Homo sapiens: one gene and its partner. Each later gene encodes a partner of the first gene's protein in a complex. Each region holds a gene or a part of one and is shown in the gene's direction. Other genes may lie near its edges.

The links.
Region 2: the proteins of RIOX1 (region 1) and RPL8 are in contact, whole or in part, in a crystal structure (PDB 4CCN), measured with the Homo sapiens proteins. Residues at the interface, in NP_078920.2 of Homo sapiens: Gly259 (codon at 2,932), Gln260 (codon at 2,935), Arg272 (codon at 2,971), Thr274 (codon at 2,977), Arg297 (codon at 3,046), Met322 (codon at 3,121), Ala323 (codon at 3,124), Gly324 (codon at 3,127), Ser325 (codon at 3,130), Asn326 (codon at 3,133), Tyr328 (codon at 3,139), Phe337 (codon at 3,166), His340 (codon at 3,175), Asp342 (codon at 3,181), Ile344 (codon at 3,187), Ser374 (codon at 3,277), Asn376 (codon at 3,283), Thr419 (codon at 3,412), Ser421 (codon at 3,418), Thr422 (codon at 3,421), Gln424 (codon at 3,427), Tyr577; in NP_000964.1 of Homo sapiens: Gly213, Gly214, Asn215, His216, Gln217, His218, Ile219, Lys221, Pro222.

Annotation. Positions count from the first base shown.
Region 1 is NC_000014.9:73,488,861-73,492,602, forward strand, and holds the start of RIOX1 (ribosomal oxygenase 1), read left to right. Parts: upstream 1-2,072; 5' UTR 2,073-2,157; coding exon 2,158-3,742. UniProt on the Homo sapiens protein: Oxygenase that can act as both a histone lysine demethylase and a ribosomal histidine hydroxylase. Specifically demethylates 'Lys-4' (H3K4me) and 'Lys-36' (H3K36me) of histone H3, thereby playing a central role in histone code.
Region 2 is NC_000008.11:144,790,344-144,794,085, reverse strand, and holds the start of RPL8 (large ribosomal subunit protein uL2), read left to right. Parts: upstream 1-1,695; 5' UTR 1,696-1,956; coding exon 1,957-2,094; exon of another isoform or gene 2,095-2,155; intron 2,156-2,171; coding exon 2,172-2,313; intron 2,314-2,590; coding exon 2,591-2,809; intron 2,810-3,615; coding exon 3,616-3,731; intron 3,732-3,742. UniProt on the Homo sapiens protein: Component of the large ribosomal subunit. The ribosome is a large ribonucleoprotein complex responsible for the synthesis of proteins in the cell.

The DNA of each region.
Region 1 (3,742 bases):
AAAAATACAAAAATTAGCTTCGGTGGTAGCAGGTGCCTGTAATCCCAGCTACCTGGGAGGCTGAGGCAGGAGAATCGCTTGAACCTGGGAGGTGGAGGTTGCAGTGAGCCAAGATTGGGCCATTGCAACACAGAGGTTGGGGTAACACAGCAAGACCCTGTCTCAAAAAAATAAAATAAAAATAAAAAATAAAGGTAAAGAGACTAGTTGGGAGGCTATTTGTAATAAACCAGGATTTGTCTGCCTCAACACTACACTACTGACATTTTGCATCAGACAATTATTTGTTGTGGGAGGGTTGTCCTTAGTATTGTAGAATGTTTAGTAGTGTCTCTAGTGTCTGTTTACTAGATGTTAGACAACCCCTAGCCCCCTATATGACATTGCCAAATGTCCCTATGGAGACAATATCACCCCCAGTTGATAACTGTGTGTGTAACAGACCATGTGAGAAATAAAAAAGGGTGGATGTTAGACATGGGTAAGGACAAAATCTAAAAGCCTTGGCAAGTGTTTGGATAGGCTTGCAACTGAGAAAGAGGGAGTGTTGAAAGCTCAAACAGAGAAAGGTCCTAGAGGCCATGTACTGTAGTCTAATATGCTTATCATTGCTTGAAACATTGTAAACCCTCTTGGAAGGCAGTTTGGTAAAACCTATTAATAATCACAAAAAGTATCTTACTTTTTGACCCAGCACTTTTATTTCTGGGAGTTTATCTTAAATGATTCAAATGAAGACAAGGAATCTTTATGTACAAAGCAATTAGTTGCATGACAGACAGTGACCACGTTCTCAAAAATTACACCCGCATGCCACCACATTGCCTGTTAAATTAGAAGCCGATTTAAGATCCTGAGTTTAAGAGCCAAAGAAGTTGTAGCTAAAGAAACAAAATCCCAGAGGGGCAGGAAGGGCAGATATCAAGAATGCAAGTAGAGAAATTCTTAACTTATTTTTCAGAGAGAGGACAATGAATTTGAGAATTTGTATTGGAGAAAAGAGGGAGAGAAGTTAGGTGGAGGAACTCCTAGATAAGGCTTCAATCAGTGAATTCATCTGCAGAGCAGAAGTTTCTGCGGAACTCAAACTGCCTGGGGGCATTCCTTGAAAAGAAGAATTCTGCACTTTTTGGTGGGAACCTGCCGGTGGAACATCCTGTTTAGAAATGAGGACATCCAAGGAACACTGCAATGTGCAGAGACTAGAAGGAAAAAACAGTCAAGTAGCCATTTCTCCTGGGGAGTCTCTAGTAACTTGATTTTGTGCTTCTTCTTGTTTTTTGAGACAAGAGTCTCACTCTGTCGCCCAGGCTGGAGTGCAATGGTACGATCTCGGCTCACTGCAACCTCCACCTCCCGAGTTCAAGCAATTCTCCTGTCTCAGCCTCCCGAGTAGCTGGGACTACAGGTGCAAGTCACCACACCTGGCTAATTTTTGTAATTTTTAAATTATTATTTATTTTTATTTTTTTGAGGCGGAGTCTCGCTCTGTCGCCCAGGCTGGAGTGCAGTGGCGCCATCTCGGCTCACTGCAAGCTCTGCCTCCCGGGTTCACGCCATCCTCCTGCCTCAGCCTCCCGAGTAGCCGGGACTACAGGCGCCCAGCACCACGTCCGGCTAGTTTTTTGTATTTTTCTTTTTTAGTAGAGACGGGGTTTCACCGTGTTAGCCAGGATGGTCTCGATCTCCTGACCTCGTGATCCGCCCGCCTCGGCCTCCCAAAGTGCTGGGATTACAGGCGGAGCCACCGCGCCCGGCCAATTTTTGTAGTTTTAGTACAGACGGGGTTTCACCATACTGGTCAGGCTGGTCTCGAACTCCTGACCTCAGGTGATCCACACACCTCGGCCTCCGAAAGTGCTAGGATTACAGTCGTGAACCACCGCGCTTGGCCGCAACTTGATTTTTAAATTGCTCTCTGAGTGTAGATTCCTTGTTTGTTTGGCAAGGGTTCTTGCCGCTGCCGCTACAGCTTGAAGCCAAACATTTAATGAAAGAGAGCGGGAGGGGCCGAATAGAAGAATGATGGGCGTGGCCAACCCCGAGGTGGCTGGAGGCCGCGCCCCCTTCCCAGAGTGCACCGCAGCCGCTGCATTCAGGAACCGCTTTAGCTTCGCCCCCGGCCGGCCGGGCGGGGAAGACTGGTGTGGTCTGGCCATGGATGGGCTCCAGGCCAGTGCAGGGCCGTTGAGGCGCGGGCGGCCGAAGCGCCGGCGCAAGCCCCAGCCACACAGCGGGTCGGTCCTGGCCCTGCCCTTGAGGTCCAGGAAGATACGAAAGCAGCTGCGAAGTGTTGTATCCCGCATGGCAGCGCTGAGGACGCAGACGCTGCCTAGCGAGAACTCGGAGGAATCGAGGGTGGAGTCGACGGCCGACGACCTGGGGGACGCGCTACCCGGTGGGGCGGCGGTGGCGGCCGTCCCGGACGCAGCCCGGCGAGAGCCATACGGCCACCTGGGGCCCGCAGAGCTGCTGGAGGCCTCGCCCGCCGCGCGCTCCCTGCAGACCCCGTCGGCGCGCCTGGTGCCCGCTTCCGCGCCGCCCGCGCGCCTGGTGGAGGTGCCCGCCGCGCCGGTCCGGGTGGTGGAGACCTCGGCCCTGCTGTGCACCGCGCAACACTTAGCGGCCGTCCAGTCGTCCGGGGCCCCTGCGACGGCGTCGGGGCCGCAGGTGGATAACACGGGTGGGGAGCCGGCCTGGGACTCCCCGCTGCGGCGCGTCTTGGCCGAGCTGAACCGCATCCCCAGCAGCCGGCGGCGAGCGGCCCGCCTCTTTGAGTGGCTCATCGCGCCCATGCCGCCAGATCACTTTTACCGGCGCCTATGGGAGCGCGAGGCGGTGCTGGTGCGGCGGCAGGACCACACCTACTACCAGGGACTTTTCTCTACCGCTGACCTGGATTCGATGCTGCGCAACGAGGAGGTGCAGTTCGGCCAGCATTTGGACGCCGCTCGCTACATCAACGGACGACGCGAGACCCTGAACCCACCCGGCCGCGCGCTGCCCGCCGCCGCGTGGTCCCTGTACCAGGCCGGCTGCTCCCTGCGTCTCCTCTGTCCGCAGGCTTTCTCTACTACTGTGTGGCAGTTTTTGGCTGTGCTTCAAGAGCAGTTTGGAAGCATGGCAGGCTCCAACGTTTACCTCACGCCCCCTAACTCGCAGGGCTTTGCCCCCCACTACGACGACATCGAGGCCTTCGTGCTGCAGCTGGAAGGTAGGAAACTCTGGCGTGTATACCGACCCCGAGTCCCAACCGAGGAACTGGCTCTGACATCCAGCCCCAACTTCAGTCAGGACGACCTCGGTGAGCCGGTGCTGCAGACCGTGCTGGAACCTGGAGATTTGCTGTATTTTCCTCGGGGCTTCATTCACCAAGCTGAATGCCAGGATGGAGTCCACTCTCTGCACCTCACCTTGTCCACGTACCAGCGCAATACCTGGGGTGACTTCTTAGAGGCCATACTGCCTCTGGCAGTGCAGGCTGCAATGGAAGAAAATGTGGAGTTTCGGAGGGGTCTGCCCCGAGACTTCATGGATTACATGGGGGCCCAGCATTCAGATTCTAAGGATCCGCGAAGAACCGCTTTCATGGAGAAGGTGCGGGTCTTGGTTGCCCGCCTGGGACACTTTGCTCCTGTTGATGCTGTGGCCGACCAGCGAGCCAAAGACTTCATTCACGATTCTCTGCCCCCTGTTTTGACTGATAGGGAGAGGGCACTAAGTGTTTACGGGCTTCCAATTC
Region 2 (3,742 bases), on another chromosome or scaffold:
CCCATGTCCAGTGCTTGCGGCCTCGTCTGGAGTGGCTGTCAAGTGACCCAGAACTGCATAGCCCCTGCTGTGTACCAGGCTGTGTGGTCTCCCGTGAAGGTCAAGACTGAGCCCAGTCACACAGTCCTCAGGACTGTCAGGTGGATGCTGGCAGGGCCATGTCTCTTCCAGCCTTAAAGCGGCCTGGTCAGTCTCCTGGCTGCACGTAGGGTCTTGGTAGCCGCATCTCATCCCAGAGACCCGTGAGACCATCTTGGGGACCCCACAGCCTGTGTGTCCAAGCACTCTTCTCACCTCTATCCCGCACCCAACTCTCCTTCTGCTCCTCCAGAGAAGCAGATTTGTTCAGGAGTGACGGACAGGCTGGGCCTGTGGGCCAATTTTGGGCTGACCCCAGAACCCCTCACCCTGCCCCCAGGGTCCAGTCCTGCCCCTCAGCCCCTGGCCCTAGCTGTGGGCTGTGCTGCTTCCTGAGTCCCCACCGGGCAGCTCCTCCTCCATCCCCCTGCCGACCCTAGGGGAGGGCCTCCTGCAGCAGCCCCTCCTCTCCCCTGTGAGCAACAGCGGGCACAGGACACCCTTCCACCCTCTCCTGTCTCCTTCTCACGATGTCAACCCTGCCTCAGCCCCTGCAGGGTCTAGGAAACACCCCACCTCCCAGTACCGACAGCAAGCCTCTCCCGCCCACTGGGACCCCCGCCTTCACCTCCTTGCTGCCTCCCCACCCACGGCCTCGCGTGTGCTCGACAGTGCTCACTCAGCCAGGGACTCTCTCCTGGAAAACCTCTTCCCCACCATCCCCCACCCGCGGCCTCGGGGTCCCACCCGTTAGGGGCCCGATTCCGCGAAGCCCCTCTCCACAGCACGTACCGCAGGACACCCCCAGTCGGGCTGACTCTTTCCAGCTCAGGCCCCCACAGCCCCTCCCAGCCTCCATTTCTTGCTCCTTCCCCACCTCTCCCGCACAGGGTTCTGGTCAGGGTACGGTCCAGTCTCCCATTATTCGTCCACTCCGCAGCATGTGACCCAGCCCATCCCCGCTCCTTCTTCCTCGACCCGGGACCCTCCAGCTTGGCCCTCCCCACTTCCTGGGCCGGCCGGCCCTCACCCTCGGCAAGGATCCCGGGGCTCCTCTCCTCGACGCCCGACCTCTCCAAGGGCCTACAGTGGATAAGGTCCCCGCGTCCAGAAGCGCCCGTTCATCAGGGAGACGGACATTTGCCACCTGCAAACCATGACGTTCCACGAGTGGGTCCACGCGTCTCCCCTGCCCATCTCCTGCTCTGCACCAGCGAGAACCCCCTCGGCCTACACGGAAGCCCCTCACCAGGCAAGCCGGGAGCCCCAGACCCCGTGGCCCGGAGTGGGTCGCTCTGTGACACCCTGGACAGGTCACTCAACCACTTGGCGCCTCCTCGGCCACTCAGAAAACACCTGCCCTCCCGGAGACCCCGGTGAAAGCCGAGCACTCCTGCACCCTCCTTCCGAGCCCACGCACACCAGGACACCTTCAGCCGCGTCTCCTGGTGCGCCTGCGCGGGGGCCCTGGAGGAGGAGAAGTAGGCGGGGCCGGCGGCCGCTGGTGACTACAAGCCCCGGCGTGCACCGCGCTAGGCTGGCCGTGGCGCGCCCGGAAGGTGTCGCGGCCCTGGGCCCCGCCCCGGAAGATAAGGCCGCTCGCTGACGCCGTGTTTCCTCTTTCGGCCGCGCTGGTGAACAGGTAGGTCATCCTTGCGGCCTTGCGGCATGGGCAGTATCCGCCGCCATCCTCTTCCGTGAGGCGCGCTGAGACCCGGACCGGCCCTCCTGAGAGGATGCCGGTGCGGGCGCCCGCGGAGAGGGTAGGGAGTGGTGGGCGCGGCGGCCTCGGGGGCGGGGTCCCGGAAAGCCGGGCTGGCGGGGGTACCCGGGCCGCCCGGCCGCGCTAATCGTGAGTCGCCCCCAGGACCCGTCGCCATGGGCCGTGTGATCCGTGGACAGAGGAAGGGCGCCGGGTCTGTGTTCCGCGCGCACGTGAAGCACCGTAAAGGCGCTGCGCGCCTGCGCGCCGTGGATTTCGCTGAGCGGCACGGCTACATCAAGGGCATCGTCAAGGTGCGGAACGCTGGCCGGGGCGGGAGGGGAAGGGACGCCCGGCCGGAACGCCGCACTCACGCCGCCTCTGCCCACAGGACATCATCCACGACCCGGGCCGCGGCGCGCCCCTCGCCAAGGTGGTCTTCCGGGATCCGTATCGGTTTAAGAAGCGGACGGAGCTGTTCATTGCCGCCGAGGGCATTCACACGGGCCAGTTTGTGTATTGCGGCAAGAAGGGTTAGCATCGCGGCGGGGAAGGAAGGTCGGGGTGGGGAGGGGTCTGGGTGTTGCCTGAGGAGTTAACGTCCTAAGCCGATATGGGAACCTCGCAGGCAGAAGCTTCAGGTGGGGACATCCGCGTGGCCAGACCAGTGGCCACCGGTGGGTGCCGAGAGAGTTGTACCGGGAGGCTGGATGTTGAATGCTGTGCTCGCAACTTCGCGGGTTGCCTAGAGCGAGGGGGTTCGCATTGTTTCTTACTGTGCTGACGGCCTGATGCTGCTTCCCCTTGCAGCCCAGCTCAACATTGGCAATGTGCTCCCTGTGGGCACCATGCCTGAGGGTACAATCGTGTGCTGCCTGGAGGAGAAGCCTGGAGACCGTGGCAAGCTGGCCCGGGCATCAGGGAACTATGCCACCGTTATCTCCCACAACCCTGAGACCAAGAAGACCCGTGTGAAGCTGCCCTCCGGCTCCAAGAAGGTTATCTCCTCAGCCAACAGAGCTGTGGTTGGTGAGTATCAGGCAGCAGTTGAATGCTGAGGGCTGTGGGTGAACATGCTGTGAGTGCCGGTGGACAGCCAGTGGCTAGACTTGGTCCCTGGAATTCGATTACCTGTTGTTCTAAAACTTGGGTTCTGTAAGTTTGAGCTCATCCTGTAGTCTCAGTTGTCATCACTGTACAACAGGCACAACAGTACCTGCTTTACTGCTGTTGAGGCGTTAAATGAGATTGGGACGAAGTCACCAGGGTCTTGGATTCTACCGTGGGCTTCCTGATTGCTGCACTTGCATGCAGTTGGTTAACAGCCTTTTTAGAGAAGGCAGGGAGAGATTGTGGCTTTCTCAAAGACGCCTACTGAGTGAGTGAAAAAGGATTTGAGTCTAGGTTAACTCACTGTGCTGTTTGGGAACATCTTGGAATCCTTGTGATGAACTCAGCCTCGCACAGGGGAGGCTCTGAGGTTGTGTTCCTGGAATAAGTAAAGCTGAGATGGGGCAGGCTGAATCAAGTGTCTTACGTCAGGTTGAGTGGCCGGCCTGACGTCTCACACATGGTGAGGGGGGTGCTTCCCTGCGCTTGGAGCTCAGCCAGCATTCTAGGTGATGGAGGTGAGGGCCTTGGCTTGCCTGCCCATTGTGGATTGAAGAAACTGGATGTCAGCTCACAGGGTGCAAGGGGCTCCCTAGGGTGGAGGCGAGTGGGCTTTTTGCTGGGTAGTTGGATGCAGTATTGGGAAGGTGCATGACAGGAGATTGAGGGGAGGTGGGGGTGCTCTGACCGACTGGGGGTTCCCTGAGGTATCTGATCCCCTACAGGTGTGGTGGCTGGAGGTGGCCGAATTGACAAACCCATCTTGAAGGCTGGCCGGGCGTACCACAAATATAAGGCAAAGAGGAACTGCTGGCCACGAGTACGGGGTGTGGCCATGAATGTAAGTAACCC